Regions from separate parts of the Homo sapiens genome. Here region 2 is linked to region 1. Evidence: fine-mapped QTL for protein levels in blood plasma. Region 1 holds a variant in brackets. A gene starts in the other region. All regions are shown on their reverse strands.

Region 1 (8,329 bases):
CAGTGGCGCGATCTTGGCTCACTGCAAGCTCTGCCTCCCGGGTTCACACCATTCTCCTGCCTCAGCCTCCCGAGTAGCTGGGACCACAGGCACCTGCCACCACGCCCAGCTAATTTTTTGTATTTTTAGTAGAGACCGGGTTTCACTGCGTTAGCCAGGATGGTCTCGATCTCCTGACCTTGTGATCCACCCATCTCGGCCTCCCAAAGTGCTGGGATTACAGGCTTGAGCCACTGCGCCCAACCAGAATTTACTTGTTTTTTATGAGTCGGGTTCCCACTCTGTTGCCCAGGCTGGAGTGCAGTGGTGTGATCACAGCTCACTTCAGCCTTGAACTCCTGGGCTCAAGCGATCTTCCCACTGCAGCCTCCTGAGTAGCTGAGACTAGAGGTTTGCACCACCATGCCCAGCTAACTTTTTTTTTTTTTTTTTTGAGATGGAGTCGCTCTCTGTCGCCCAGGCTGGAGTGCAGTGGCACAATCTCGGCTCACTGCAAACTCCGCCTCCCGGGTTAACGCCATTCTCCTGGCTTAGCCTCCCAAGTAGCTGGGACTACAGACGCCTGCCACCACGTCCGGCTAATTTTTGTATTTTTAGTAGAGACGGGGTTTCACGTTGTTAGCCAGGCTGATCTCGAACTCCTGACCTCAGGTGATCCACCCACCTCGGCCTCCCAAAGTGCTGGGATTACAGGCATGAGCCACTGTGCCTGGCCCCAGCTAACTTTTTAACTGTAGAAACAGGGTTGCACTATGTTGCCCATGCTGATCTCAAACTCCTGGCCTCCTACAGTCCTCCTGCCTCGGCCTTCCAAAGTGCTGGGATTACAGGTGTGAGCCATCCCCAGCCAGTCATAAAAAGTTCTTGAACCCTAGCGTTACGCTCTTCCTCCAGGCTGAGTCTCTTCTCTCACAGCCCCAAATCCTTTTCTTCCTCCTGGGCTTGGATATTGTCACTGTCACATCTGCTCTAACCCTGCCTGGGCCATGAACGTCATAACCTTAGCATGGAAGCGGGAGAGAAGGCAGGCAGGTCAAGGGTGCGACACGGGGTGATCAGAATGGGCTGGGAGGTTGCTGGGATACAGACAGGGACAACAGACTCAGGAGTCCCCCACCAGGTGCCACAGAAGAAGCTGGCCCAGGAGGTAGCAGAGTCTCCCCCCACCCCCACCTCCATGTCTCCCTACCAAACAGATGGTGTTTATCTAATTCTCAGAGGGAGGGGCCCAGCCAGTGGCCCAGAGAGCTGGGCTGTGTATCTTATTTGGGTAATGAGGCCTGTTGTCCCTGGTGGGGAGGGGGCAGTCCCCCACCCCCACCCCAAAGCAAACACAGGAACTTGGAGACCAGGGAGGAGAGAGGGCCCAATGACCAATGCACTCAAGTAGGGAGAGGCTGCGGAGTCAGACTGGCACCCACCCACATTTCACCCCCAGAATGTAGGAAAGACCCCTGGAGGAAGCAGGTATGGTTTTCTGAAAGACTAAGCCTTGGGGGCCAGGTGCGGTGGCTCACGCCTGTCATCCCAGCACTTTGGGAGGCCAAGGTGGGTGGATCACTTGAGGTCAGGAGTTCGAGACCAGCCTGGCCAACATGATGAAGCCCCGTCTCTACTAAAAATACAAAAGTGAGCTGGGTGTCATGGCATATGCCTGTAATCCCAGCTACTCAGGGGGCTGAGGCACGAGAATCATTTGAACCTGGGAGACGGAAGTTGCAGTGAGCCAAGATCATGCCACTGCACTCCAACCTGGGTGGCAGAATGAGGCTCCATCTCAAAAAAATGAAAAAATGGCTAAGACTTGGGGCCTCAGCCTTCCCATCTGAGATCTGAGTAAGGGATGCAAAAGGCGGGCTAGAGGGGACTGGTACACAACCCTGGCTTGTGGATGGAGACGAGAGAGGGAGGGAGAGACTAGCAGGGGGTCTAAGACCCTGAATGTCTTGGCCTCCTGGCTCAGCTTCCTGGAGGCAGAAGACTTGGCCTGTGCCTAGCAGGACCCTCACCAGTGTAAGCTCTTCCATCCAGTGGATTTTTTTTTCCTTCAAGACAGGATCTTGCTCTGTTGCCCAGGCTGGAGTGCAGTGGCGTGATCATAGCTCACTGTAGCCTCAAACTCCCGGGCTGAAGAAATCCTCTGACCTCGCCTCCCTAGTAGCTAGGACTATAGGTGCATGCCACCACACCCGGCTAATTTTAAAATTATTTTGTAGAGACAGGGTCTTGCTATGTTGCCCAGGCTGGTCTCAAACTCCTTGGCTCAAGCGATCCTCCCGCCTTGGCCTCCCAAAGTGTTGGGATTACAACCGTGAGCTACCGCGCCCAGCCCATCCTGTGGATTTGATGGACAGCTAGGGTTAGAGTGAGGGTGCTCTGTCTCCATGAATACCATTTGCTCATCCTAGCGGCCTTCCTTTGGGATCTGTTGGTTCATTGTCTTCTGTGCAGCCCTGAGAAGAGCACACCTTCTCGCTGAGTCCAGGTTGCCACCCTGGGATTCTGGGCATGGCAGACACCAAAAGGACTGTACCATGAAGGCAGTGACTGCCACTCTCTATAAAGAGGCACCCTCGGCTGGGCATGGTGGCTCACATCTGTAATCCCAGCACTTTGGGAGGCCAAGGTGGGCAGATCACTTGAGGTCAGGAGTTTGAGACCAGCCTGGGCAACATGGTGAAACCCCGTCTTTACTAAAAATACCAAAAAAATTAGCTGAACGTGGTGGCGCACAACTGTAATCCCAGCTACTCGGGAGGCCGAGGCACGAGAATTGTTTGAATCCAAGAGATGGAGGTTGTGGTGAGCTGAGATCTCACCACTGCACTCCAGCCTGGATGACAGACTGAGACTCCGTCTCAAAACCAAAAGCAAACCAAAAAAAACCAAACCAAACCAAAACAAAACACAGAGGCTCCCTCTCTACCAGGCAAACCATGGCCATCCCCTTTGCCTCTCCTGGGCCTAAGGAGGCCTGAGTGACCTCGGACCTGCCCCTTTCCTCCCTGACTCTCAGGAAGGTCTTTTTTTTTTTTTTTTTTTTTTGAGACGGAGTTTCACTCTTGTTGCCCAGGCTGGAGTACAACGGTGTGATCTCAGCTCACTGCAACCTCCGCCTCCCAGGCTCAAGCAATTCTCCTGCTTCAGCCTCCTGAGTAGCTGGGATTACAGGTGTGCGCCACCACAGCCAGCTAATTTTGTATTTTTAGTAGAGACAGGGCTTCAGTATGTTGGACTAGGCTGGTCTCGAACTCCTGACCTCAGGCGATCCACCCGCCTTGGCCCCGCAAAGTTCTGGGATGACAGGCGTGAGCTACTGCACCCAGCCCAGGAAGGTCATTTCTTATTCTCTTAAATGAGAAATGGGCCTGAGCACTGTCCCCAGCCAGCCTCCAAGACACACCTGTGAGGCCACTGGACATTGTTGCTTCCAGGGCCGAGCTGATCCACAGGTTTCAGCGTGGCTTTTGTTCTGCAGTAGACTGACAAACAGGTCTCCCCAGGGAACACAGGGGCCGCTGGTGGGAGTCTGGAAGGGGATTTTGAAGGTCTGACTCTCTGGATAGGAATTTCAGGCAGGTTGGGTTGGGGGGCCAGATTTGGAGGGGCCCCTCAAATGCCAACCATAGATGGATGCCTAGTGCATGGGGAATATGGGGACCAGCCTCTGTGGCAGCACTGCATCTCCCTAACCCTACTCCTCTCCCCTTTGACAGTGGCAAGCTGGTGTCTCCCAAGTGGAAGAATTTCAAAGGCCTCAAGCTGCTCTGCAGAGACAAGATCCGCCTGAACAACGCCATCTGGAGGGCCTGGTATATCCAGTGTGAGTGGCTACCACCAGCCTCCCAAGCCGGGAGGGACTGCCCCCTCCAACCCTCCTGCCAGAGGGTTCTACATGGTGGCTGCCCAGGAAAATCCCCGGGGTCCTCAAGGCCAGCACTAGCAGAGTTCTGCCAACCTTTTTTTTTTTTTTTTTTTTTTGAGACACAGTCTTGCTCTGTTGCCCAAGCTGGAGTGCAGTGGTGCCATCTCGGCTCACTGCAACTTCCGCCTCCCAGGTTCAAGCCATTCTCCTGCCTCAGCCTCCCAAGTAGCTGGGACTGCAGGCACCCACCACCACTCCCAGCTAATTTTTGTATTTTTAGTAGAGACGGTTTCACCATGTTGGCCAGGCTGGTCTTGAACTCCTGACCTCAAGTGATCTGCCCACCTTGGCCTCCCAAAGTGCTGGGATTACAGGCGTGAGCCACCACGCCTGACCCTGACAGCCTTTTAGGGGGAGACCAGGCCCCCAGCACCAGGACTCCTGAATAGCTCCTGACCTCCAGCGGGTCTCGGGGAATAGGTCCCAAAGGGTGTTTCCACTGTGAAGCTGGGCACAGCAGAGGTCACCCCTCAGTAGCACTAGGGTAGGCTGAGATTTGAGGTACAGTTCAAAGCCCATTTTGCATCCCATTAGCATAGTTGGGTGCCTTGAATGCGAGGGTAAAAAGGGCCATTAGACACTAGCGGGGCCAACTGCATCACTTTGTAAATGGAGAAACTGAGGATCCCGCATGGGTCTCCACCAGCCTTTCATTGAAGTCCTTCCTGAATATCCAGTAGGTGCCCACCATGGCCAATTGGGCAGAGGGGATCCAGAGAGGCCATGCCATCTCGTGGAAGGAACTCTGGACTTAGAGTTGCCCAGAGCTAGTTCCTCCACCCCGTCTCTGCCCCTTGCTGGCTGTGTGACTTCAGGCTAGTTGCCTAGCCTCTCTGAACTTGTTTCCTTATCTATAAAAAC[G/A]AGGCCACGGTGGCTCACACCTGTAATCCCAGCACTTTGGAAGGCCAAGGCGGGCAGATCACAAGGTCAGGAGATCGAGACCATCCTGCCTAACGCAGTGAAACCCGGTGTCTACTAAAAATACAAAAAATTAGCTGGGCGTGGTGGCGGGTGCCTGTAGTCCCAGCTACTCGGCAGGCTGAGGCAGGAGAATGGCGTGAACCTGGGAGGCGGAGCTTGCAGTGAGCTGAGATCGCGCCGCTGCACTCCAGCCTGGGCGACAGGGCGAGACTCCGTCTCAAAAAAAAAAAAAAAAAAAGGGCAAAACAAAAAACGAGGCCAATAGTCCTAACTTTCATGGTTGGTGTGGAGATAACAGGTATTCCAGGGTGTTGCCACTAAGTTGGTATCCAATACATGATGTATCCTTAAGGAGGTCACATTCTCATTCATTTGGGAACACCCCACTCCCCATGGCAGGGCAGCAGAGGCAGAGAGGACTTGGATCCGCCAGCCCTGTGTTGGGACCTCATTCAGGTCAGGTTCTGCTGCAGGATCAAAGGCTGCACTGAGCTGGGAATGCAAAGCCCAGGAGAGACCACACGCAGTATTCTCTGTCCTCGCCCCGCTGGATTTCATCCAAGCAGGGAGAGGGTGTGTTTTCTGGTTTCCATTTATCTACATGCCAGGCACTTTCGTGAATCACCTTATTTAAGGCTTCCTAGCAACCCTGGGAGATAGGTTTTATTACCGCCATGTTATGGATGAGCAACTGAGGCTCAGAAGGCAAGTGACATATTCAGGTTCACAGAGCGTAAAAGAAGCAGAGCTGGGGCTGGCTGGAAGTCCACAGTTCCCCAACTCCAAATTATGGCGGTGGGGGGGGTTTGTTTGGTTTTGTTTTGTTTTTTAATACGAAGTTTCGCTCATGTTGCCCATGCTGGAGTGCAGTGGCGTGATCTTGGCTCACTGTAACCTCCGTCTCCCTGGTTTAAGAGATTCTCCTGCCTCAGCCTCCTGCACCTCTCCTGGGGCAAGAAGAACTTTCCACTTTGTATTGTCTCGTGTTGTTTGTTTACTTCCCTTATCTCTCCCACTAAGCTGTGGGCACCAAGTAGCTGGGATTACAGGCACCCGCCAAATTTTGTATTTTTAGTGGAGACAGGGTTTCACCATGTTGTCCAGGCTGGTCTCGAACTCCTGACCTCAGATGATCTGCCCGCCTCAGCCTCCCAAAGAGCTGGGGTTATAGGCGTGAGCCACCACACCCAGCCTGCAGAAGAAATTTCTGATGGCAGCTGAGGCATGATGTCACCTGGGGTCCTCACCCAGACACACTGATCTCCAGCTATTGCACAAGTTGCTGGAAGGACCCCAGGTTCGGAATCAGACAGAGTGAGGTTTCAGTCCAGCCCTAGCATGTCCTAACTGTGTGGGCTTGGGAAATTCTCTAGCCTCCCGGAGTCGAAGCTTGCTATTTGTGAAAATGGGAATGACAGGTCCTATTTGTTTTTTCTTGGTTTTCTTTTTTTTGAAACAGTCTTGCTCTGTCACCCATGCTGAAGTGCAATGGCACGATCTCGGCTCACTGCAACCTTCACCTCCCAGTTCAAGCAATTATTGTGCCTCAGCCTCCCAAGTAACTGGGACTACAGGCGCATGCCACCATGCCTGGCTAATTTTTGTATTTTTAGTAGAGACGGGGTTTCACCATGTTGCCCAGGCTGGTCTTGAACTCCTGGCCACAAGTGATCTGCCCACCTCGGCCTCCCAAAGTGCTGGGATTACAGGCATGAGCCACCGCGCCCGGCCAATAGGTCCTATTTCTGAGGTTCACTGAGTTTTCAGTGAGATCATCTGTATCTCACTGTCATAGTCATAGCAGCACGTGACACACATACAACAAATGTCAAGACCCCTCCTCCTCCCTAAACGCCAAAGGTTTGAAGGTGGGCTTCACGGGAGTGGGGAGGAGAAGGGCTTACTTGGCTTGACGCCACTAATGTCGGGCCTTAGGGCTCAAGCAGGAAGGGCTCTGCCACCCCCTGCAGGCTCCTATCCTCTAAGATTCTTCCTTTCCTGATCCAACAGTCATACTCCCACACTCTGAAATCGTCTTGGTGTCCTGGGAGCTCCCTGGCACTTTGCACCGCTCCTGGGGCAAGAAGGACTTTCCACTTTGCATTGTCTCGGGTTGTTTGTTTACTTTCCTTATCTCTCCCGCTAAGCTGTGGGCACCCTGCCTGATTCATCCATGTGTCCTGTCCCAGTATCTGTCTCAGCATAGGTGCAAAGGGTTCCGCGGCTGAGTGAAGGGAAGAACTTATCAGTGTTAAACAAAGCCTGCCCCAGCCCCCAGGAAGCCACATGGTTACAGCCTTTCCATGAGAAACAGTCCAGAGGATGGGGTCTCTGGGCTGGGGAGGGGGGCTTCACTTGGCCCTGACTTTCTGAGAGCCCTGGACAAACTTTTTTTTTTTTTTTTTGAGATGGGGGTCTCACTCTGTTGCTCAGGCTGGAGTGCAATGGTGTGCTCTCGACTCACTGCAGCCTCCTCCTCCGGGGTTCAAGCGATTCTCCTGCCTCACCCTCCTGAGTAGCTGGGACTACAGGTGCGCACCACCACGCCCGGCTAATTTTTTGTATTTTCGGTAGAGACAGGGTTTCTCCATGTTGGTCAGGCTGGTCTCGAACTCCCGACCTCAGGTGATCCGCCCACCTCGGCCTCCCAAAGTGCTGGGATTACAGGCGTGAGCCACCGCGCCTGGCCTAACAAACTTAATTTTATTCTATTTTTTGAGACAGGGTCTCACTTCATCACCCAGGCTGGAGTGCAGTGGAGCCAACATAGCTCACTGCGGCCTCCAATTCCTGGGCTCAAGCAATTCCCCCACCTCGGCCTCCCTAGTAGCTGGGACTACAGGCATGCGCCCCCACACCCAGCTATTTTTTATTTTTAATTTTTTGTAGGGGCAGGGTCTCACTAGGTTGCTCAGGCTGGTCTCAAACTCCTGGCCTCAAGCAATCCTCTCAGTTCAGCCTCCCAAAATGTTGGGGCTACAGGCGTGAGCCACCACACCGTACCAGGACAAACTTCATCTTTGCTGGTGTTCATTTCCTCATCTGGAAAGCCAGGGGCAGACACACTTTGAGACCCTCCTTCCTTATCTAGCCCCCTGGGAGTCTATGCACCCAAGGACCCAGCCCTTTGTTTTCTGTCCAATCTGGGCTCAGAAACCAGGACAAAACCCCTCCTTCAATCCTATCAGTGTCCATTTTGGAGAATGCTTTATTTTATTTTATTTTTTTTTTTTTGAGACAGTCTCACTCTGTCACCCAGGCTGGGGTGCAGTGGTGTAATCTCAGCTCACTGCAACCTCTGCCTCCCGGGTTCAAGCAATTCTCATGCCTCAGCCTCCCAAGTAGCTGGGATTACAGGCATGCGCCACCACGCCTGGCTAATTTCTGTATTTTTAGTAGAGATGGGGTCTCACTATGTTGCCCATGCTGGTCTTGAATTCCTAGATTCAAGTGATACGCCGGCCTTAGCCTCCCAAAGTGCTG
Region 2 (8,329 bases), not on the chromosome of region 1:
CAACACAGATGGGGTATCTTAATAATGGGAAGATGATCTCACACTTTAAAGTGCTTGATATAAAAGGTGCCATATAAAAAGGAAGTTATTATTATTAGTTATAATACCCTAAAAAAGGGATTTGCCATCTAAATGGCTGCTGAAACTTAACTGCAGAATTGCTTATAATGCTACAATCAGTTGAGGCCAAATTCAATAAAAATTCCATCCGGCATTCACACTGAGAAGACCCACATGTGCCTTTAATTTTTTTTTAATTTCCTGGGCTTCCGGCCCAGAAATTGGATGGAAATTGTATTGAAAACTGCCCTTGTGTATCAACTTTTGGTAAATACCAGGCTTTCAGTTGACTCACATTATGCTTTACATTTTGGGCAAAGGGAGGGTATAAAATGATTCACGTCTCTCTATATACATATATTTATACACCTTTTACCTGTCTATGAGACTGTGGCTTATATTAAATGTTCATCATTATTTCTACAATTTTTAGGATCTGCCAGCCCCCACCAACCCCCCCACTGCAACCATAAGACTCAAAATTCCATTAAATCCCTTTCCAGCACTAATCAGCTTTTACTAGCACAGGCAATGTAATCTGAGTTTAGAAATGACTAATTATTTGGAGAGGGCTGGAAGGGGTTAGGGTTTAGATTTCTTTCTAATTTAAAGGAGCTTCTTTCCTGTCTTTCTCCCTGTCATTTTGCTGCCTGTGGCCAGCTCCCCCTCCTTGATGAAAATGCTCTTTCCCTTCCCATTAGACAAGGTATATATGTATGTATTAGAAGAAAAATGTATTAGGAGACATCAAGTTGAAAATATTAAAAGAAGAGCCATGCCTGTGATGGATGTGGGCATGGCAGTAATTGCACCTGCTAGGGGCAAGGCATGGGCATAATTTGCATGTAAAGTTCTCTCGGCTCCTTCCAGAACACACCAGTTCTACCCAATAAAACATTTTGTCACCTGCAGGGGGTTTGCCAACATGTTCCCAGATTGCAAGCAAAAAGATTATTTACAGTAACCAGTAACAACTGAAACAACCATAAACAACCTTTCTGTACCTGTTCTATTTCTTTTTCCTTTGGCTAAGTAGAGGAAGCTTAAGGAGTCCAAATTTACTGCAATTTAATTCTGATGGGGAAAAAGCACATGATTTTTATTTATAGCAGCGTGCTCTATCTATTCCTGTCTCCCCCAACCTCTTTTTAAAACATAAATAACCCCGGAATTTTTTGTAATCCAGCTATTACTCTTGTAGGGATGAGCAGTTTCCTGATAAAGTGAGAGAGGGCAAATGTGGCCAGAAGTTCCCTAATGTATTCAAGAATCCTGTTGTATGCTCATAGAGTAAGGGGGACTAGGGAAAAATCACCTGGTCAAGCCATTCATGCAATTTCTTTTTTTGTTATTGTTGTTGTTCTGTTTTGAGATAGGGTCTTGCTCTGTCACCCAGGCTGGAGTGCAGTGGTTCAATCATGGCCCACTGCAGCCTGGACCTCCCAGGCTCAAGCGATCTCCTCCTGCCACAGCCTCCCAAGCAGCTGGGACTGCAGACACACACCATCATGCTCAGCTAATTTTTAAATTTTTTGTTGAGAGGCGGTCTCACTGTATTGCCCAGGCTGGTCTCAAACTCCAGGGCTCAAGGGATTCTCCCACCTCAGTCTTCCAAAGTACCAAGCAACTTCTTTGTGGCAATTGGAAATGCAGGGGGCCTACATGCTGACTTTGCTGTAGGGAGCGGCACCTTGCATCTGACTGACCTGGGTCTTACCTCTTGTCCTCAAACCCCCTCTAGGAGAGTTTTTCCAGAAGTTCAGATTTCATTCTGAATTGCAGAGGACCACGCACGTATCTCTTGAGAAAATGATCAAACGTGAGAAAGTGCAGTTAAACCAGGCCTGGTTTGCCCAGGTTGCTTCTCTTGATGAGGTGTTGCTTCATTCCATCTGCAGGAATCACAGGGAGAGGATCAAGGAGAGGAAACAGGGCCATAAACTGTCAAGTCTAATTAAATGTGACTAGATTATTTAATATGAAGGGACAACGTGATACATTTTAAAAACAATGTCAGAGAATTATAAAATGAAAAGTATAAAGTCTCCTCTGCTCCAATTTCAGTCTCACTCACTAGGACTAACAATTGTTAACAGTATCCTTAGACATCCTTTCAGAAATTGTGAATGCATAAATATGGATACATACACACAAAAGGGTGCGTGCGTGTGTGTGTGTGTGTGTGTGTGTGTGTGTGTGTGTAAGTGCTTGTAAGCACAAAAACGGTACAGGTACCAACTTTCCTGTGCCGATCAACAGTACATGTCCCAAGTTCTCCTAACAATACCGTTTATTTATTTTTTTATTTATTTAGAGACAGGGTCTCCCTCAGTCTTTTGGTCTGGAGTGCTGTGGCACAATCATGGCTCACTGCAGCTTCCACCTCCTGAGCTCGAGTGATCCCTCAAGTGCTCCTCCCACCTCAACCTCTCAAGTAGTTGGGACAACAGGTGCGTGCCATGACGCCCACCTAATTTAAACTTTTTGTTTGTTTGTTTTTTGCAGAGACAAAGTCTCCCTATGTTGCCCAGGCTGGTCTCAAACTCCTGGGCTCAAGAGATCCACCTGTCTTGGCTTCTCAAAGTGCTGGGATTACAGGAGTGACCCACCTCCGCCCAGCCTCTAAGGATACCTCTTGGAGGTCATTTATGCCAATACTAGTAGATGCACCTTTCTCTCTGCCGCTGTATGTCTCCACTGTATTTTATCAGCCACTCTCCTAATGAAGGACAGGTAGGTTGTTCCCAACTGTTTTTCGTACAACTAAAGTTGCAGTGTTTGCACGGGTTTGACTGGAAGTAAGTCACCAGCGGTTCAGCGCAAAGGCTCAGGACTGCAACAGGCTTATTCAAGTCCGGGTTCTCCAACCCACCACTGTGTGTATACTTGGGCAAATAAAGGTGGTAAGATCTACTTCACAGGGTCCTTGACAGAATATAGTTGCGATTATTCTCACAACTGACTCATTGAAACTTTAAGCAAACCAATTTCCTCATCACTAAATCCGGGAATAATAATAGATCCAGGTTGCTCTGGGGACTGCATGAACTAATTGATTTAGCGCAGTCCACGACCTGCTACCTAGTGAGCCCTTAATAATTATCCGCTTTAATATTAAAATTGGCAATCTTTGCGCACTTGTGGGAGCGCAGCTGCAGGAGGCTTTTCTAGAAGTGGAATTCCTGCCTTAACCCCGTGTTCCGAGGGCCCTAACTGCGTGGCACGAGGCCACCCGGAGGTGACACGGTGACCGCCGCCCAGCCCGCGCCGCCGCCCAGGGCCCTGCGGAGGCCGGACACACGTGGGTGCACGCGGCCGAGCGCAGGGCCGCGCGGGGTCCGGCCGGCGCAGAGGCGCTGGGGGCGCCGCAGACGCGAGGCTCGGGACCCAGTTGGCTGCTCCGCCGCGCTCCCCGCCCCTCCCTCCCTCCAGTCCGCCCGGTCTCCCCTCCCTCCAGCGTCCGCGTCGGAGCCGGAGCCGGAGCCGGAGTGGCGGAGGCACGGGCAGTGCTCGCTAGGCGCCGGCAGCAGCCACAGCAGCCTGGCGCTTGGCGGCGGCGGCGGTGGCAGCGGCGGGCGGGCTGGCGCCGTGGACTGGGCCGGGAACCGTGCGGACGAGGGTGCTGCGCCTGCGGCGGCGGCGGCTTACGCGGGCGCGCACGGCGGCCCCCCGGGCCCGGACTAACTGCGGCGGCGGCGGTGGCGGCGGCGGCGGCGGCGGCGGCGGCGGCGAGTGGGCCGTCGGGGCGGGCGTCTGGCGAGCTGCAGAGACCAGGTAAGTCCGGGATGCCCGACTCCTGGCGCCGGCCGGGCCACAGGGATGAGCCACCTGCCAGGGCAAACTTTACGCCCTGGCTTCATGGCTCCTCAGCCCCGAAGTTTGTTTGCAGGGAAATGCACCTGACGGGTCGAGAATAAAAGATGCTTCTCTCATCGGACTTGCTCTGGGGAGATTATTTTTCCCCTTCTGGGGCGAGGATTGGTTTCGGGTTGGGAAGGCTGCATCCCCAGCTGGAGCGCTGAAAATTGAGTGGTAGGTCCCTTGGGCTTGCCCTTCGCGCAGTGGATTTGACCAGTTAAAGTTGGGGGAAAAAAGTTGTGACTCCTAGGGATGCTGAGGAACAATTCCAGGTGCATGATGCAGAATGTGGGAATGTGATACCTCTTTGCTGGAACCACCCCCCAGGCCCAGATTCCCAGGTCTGAGAAAGCTAGGGTGGCCGATTCTTTCATTAGCGATCAAGTTTTCTAAGCTGCATTTTCTTTCTACTCACAGATCAGCAGCTTGGGACGGAGTTCCCCGTCGCGTTTATTTGTCAGGTTTACCCTGCTGCGCTGTAGTCCAGGTTTCCTGAGCTCGGACCCTGGTTTCAGCTGTTTCTGTGTTCTCTGAGGAGCCTGCAAAGCTAACCAAGCAGGTAACAGAATAGCAGAAACAGAAAACCAGGAAGTGCCAACCGGGCACCGGGGTCATAGCACCATCAGGAATTTTTTCTGGTCGCGTGAAATGAACGAACAGCTTCTGGGCTCTGCTTGTGCAAAGCTCCGTACAACTCTCCAATCCGTATGTCTTTCCCTGTATTGCATTTGCTTATTGATTTACAACAAGGAGATGTGTCCAGAGGTATTATTTAATAACAAACGGTGTCCGCTACGGTAAGGACAGCAAACCTCCTTTCAGAGGCAAAGAAAGGGGAACAGAGCTCTGGGAAAGGGGTAGCCAGTCTGCTAACCTCAACCCAAGATGCAGGGAAACAGAGCTAGAAAAAGCAACAGACAAGGAGGGCGTGATGTGCAGGAGGGAGGTCAGAAACCCCAGCTCATATGGTGAGTAGGTAAATCCAGAAATAATTTTAAAATGATTAAGCAAGAATAACTAAAAAAAAAAAAAAAAAAGTAGGAAGACTGTACGTGCTGTGGTTTCTGTCTACCCCCACAGAGATGAATATCACACTAGCTGAAAAAGAATCCTGATCTGTAAATAGATTAAAAACAGGAATTAATCAGAACAATGAGTCAGAGCCCTTCAGAGATTGAAAGGAGGAGTAATTGCCTTTGAAAGAGCTTATATCTCAATATCAAGTCAAATGTGTTACTTTTGCTTTGCTAGATGTGTTTACTAACAGTAACCTGACTTTGGCTGCAGTAACCTGGCATCTTGGTTCATGGTTTTAACCATTTGTGGGTCATGGGACTAGGGAGAAAGTTGACTGCAGGTTAATATTCATATCAATTTGTGCAACATTTGTAAGATGCCTAATACGTGCATGTCACTGGTTGCAATGGGAGAGGTCCTTGTGAATGTTCATTAAAGAAATCTGATCGGGTTCAGCCTCACTAAATGGAAGGATGTTGGCTTGCAAATAATAAAGAGTGGGGTTGGGAATTATTGGTCTTTGAATACTTGCTTGAAATTAGTTGAGAGTAAACATGTGGTTTGAGGACCCCCAAAATGATCAGTATCCACCAGGGAAATATAGCAAATTGCTGTACACTTTTATAAGATGAATAGTAAGGCTGAATGCATGCAAGTGGCCCTTCTGTCTAAAAGTAGGATAACCGAGACACCGAGTGTCTAATTGATATGCAGGGTAATAGATTCAGGCTGTGGCCGCCACAGACAATAACATTCAGCCTCATGTCCTCCTCACTGTCTGGATGTCATTAATGTCAGCCCGAAGACATGAAGATGTTAAGTTCATTTCTCCAGGAGAACTCTAACTTTTAAATATTCTTCACAACACAACCAGATAGCCCAAGTGTACCTTAAAATGGCAACAAAGCATTTAATAGGAGCAAAGTGCTGAGCACTTTCAAGTAGAGAGAAGATTAGCCGTGGACAACAAGCTGTAGCCTTTCCTTTGCTGATTTATGTTCAATTTTATCACTGTCACATTTCATATATGCCCAGTTATTACAAACTAATAGCCTCTTTTCTCTGCTTGCAAAATATGCATCTTTCTCTTTTACAAGTTCCTAACTCCTTCTCACACATTCAGTACACATCTTCCAGCTTTGTTTTTACTGCAAAATTTAAGTGTCCAACTTGAAGTTCTCATTAACTCTTAATATGGTTCATGCTGAAATAGTATATAGATATAATTGCTGCTTCCAAACTGTCAGATCTGTATATCGCTATACTGTGGCAATACTACAAAACAGAGAAGCTTTGACTGGTTTCCAATCACCAGTTAGTAAGTTGTTAGCAGTAAAACTAATGTTAATTTTATGTAGTGGAATATATTCAGATGGCAGGAGGATTTATTGATGCTGTGCATGTTTGCCTGCTGTCTCTGATTTAGTTGTCACCACCAGTCTGCCTTTAAGCCTTCTTATCTTAGCAAGGTACTTTGTCTCTATGAAGGTGAGCATCTTTAAGGTGCTCACTTGTAGTTTTTAATATGCACACATGCATATGCATATACTTTTAACATGCATATATAATTAATCACTTAATGCTGGTGGACAGTTTCCTTTCTTATGCTTGAAAAAAGTGCAATGGAGAATATCATTGTTGCAAAGATAGTTGGCAAGAGAATATGGGGCCACGGAACAGTTTAAGATAGAACATTTCTTTGAAATTGAGGGGTGACAGATCTCATTCTCATATCCAATTTGTATAAACATTTCAGAAATGGATCGAGTGTTGTAAATGGTTTTTATCTTATAGTCTCCCCTGCACTCATCTCTTAAACACAGTGGGACATTTCTTTGGAAAAATTGCTGCAGGAGAAATGCACTCCCTGGTTGAAACTTTGTATGCCAAGTTTCAATCCATAGTACATTTTTATTTTCCCCCTTTTATGTACATGTTATAAACAAGAAATAAGGGTTTGTAATAGAAGTGCTGGCAGAACTTTATAGCATTTCAAACAGCTTTGCTACTTGGAATGTAAATATTTGTAGAATCTTTACTGTGCAAGAACCTGCCTTGCAAGGAATGAGGAAAAATGACTATTTTCTTAAGTAGGATAAAATAATTCAGTGAGTTTGCATATTTCTTGTTGCAGACCTATTGGCATTTGAAGACATAGATTATCTATGTTGTAGTGATTCCATAGCATTCTCTTAGGTGCCTTTATAACTCAGCTTGTAAATTTCCTATGTTCTAAAACAAGAGAACAATTTTGTCCCATTTGTTTTTTAAGTCCCTTGACTTTGATTACCTTTCAGATGTTAAGATATGAGATCCATATTTCAAAACTGCTTGATTATATTACTGATAAATGAGGCTGTCAGTATACTGTTTTAATAGGGTAAATCTTGACACCATCACAATACTTCAAGTGCTTTTATTTTGGGGAACTAGTACAACTCAGACCTTATATGTCCTTTTGGTTCTAACCCTGAAATATCTCTCACATTCGCCCACTTCCCTCCATGTTCACCCACGTCCTCCTTCTCCAAGTCCCCATCTTCTCTCCTGGGATAACTACACTGGCTTCCTTGGCTCCTTTCGTACTTCTTCCCCCAAATCATCCTGCATAGCAGCCAAGACTTCTTTTTTTTTTAATGTAAGTTAAATTAGTACTCATCTACTCAGAATGCTTAAATGGCTTTTCATTGAACTCAGAATAAAATCCAAACTATTAAATATTACCTGCAAGGCTGTGTGGGATTTAAACACTACTGTCCCTTTGACAATTCCTAGCAAGCTTTTAGGAACAAGAGCTTCTTAGACCCTTTTTCATTTCTGCAGATGTGTTGAGCTCTTTCCTATGTTAGGGATCATTCTGTTCTTTTGCCCAGTAGCCCTGTCCAGCCCTAACGCCTAAACACACATACGCACACACGTGTGCACACACACAAACTCACAGGGTTTTTTTTTTCATTTTTGTTTTTTTCGACAGGGTCTCACTCTGTCACCCAGGCTGGAGTGCAGTGGTGCGATCATGGTTCACTGGAACCTCGACCTCCTGGGCTAAGTGATTCTCCCACCTTAGTCTCCTGAGTAGCTGGGACTATAGACACACACCGCCATGCCCTGGCTAATTTTTGGATTTTTTGTAGAGATGGGAATTCACCATGTTGCCAAAGCTGTTCTTGAACTCCTGAACTCAAACGATCTGCCCACCTCGACCTCCCAAAGTGCTGAGATTATAGGTGTGAGCCGCTGAGTCTGGCCCACATAGAGTTTTTGACTGCTACTCATCCCTTAGGCCACAGTGTAAATATCATTTGCTTAGAGAGGGCTCTCTGATTTCCTTCCTACCCTGAATGAGGGCACTTCTGATAGGCTCTTTCTGTTCATTTCCTTGGTATGCTTAGTA

Alleles and levels. Alleles are on the strand shown, and positions count from the first base shown. The strength of an association depends on the size of the effect and on how common the allele is.
As copies of A replace G in region 1, the plasma level of the protein whose gene starts at base 3,566 in region 2 goes down (moderate association).

Evidence for each region. A credible set is the group of variants that fine-mapping cannot tell apart. PIP is the posterior inclusion probability: the model's chance that the variant is causal. The UK Biobank Pharma Proteomics Project read protein levels with antibody pairs (Olink). The fine-mapping took linkage between variants from a reference panel, not from the people measured, so its PIPs are less certain.
Region 2: it holds the start of CNTN3, and the variant in region 1 is the best candidate, but not a certain one, in a credible set for the plasma level of the CNTN3 protein (UK Biobank, PIP 0.87).

What each region holds. Positions count from the first base shown.
Region 1 is chr7:73,611,565-73,619,893 of GRCh38, reverse strand. MLXIPL (MLX interacting protein like) reads left to right here. Exons shown (of 17, transcript NM_032951.3): 2 at 3,717-3,823. Among named protein-coding and RNA genes, the nearest start is that of MLXIPL, 8.8 kb to the left of the region's middle. The variant G/A (reference allele first, on the strand shown) is at 4,787.
Region 2 is chr3:74,609,896-74,618,224 of GRCh38, reverse strand. It overlaps CNTN3 (contactin 3), which reads left to right and starts at 3,566. Exons shown (of 23, transcript NM_020872.3): 1 at 3,566-3,834. It overlaps LOC105377166 (a long non-coding RNA gene), which reads right to left and starts at 4,422. Exons shown (of 3, transcript XR_007096257.1): 1 at 4,334-4,422; 2 at 1,778-1,952.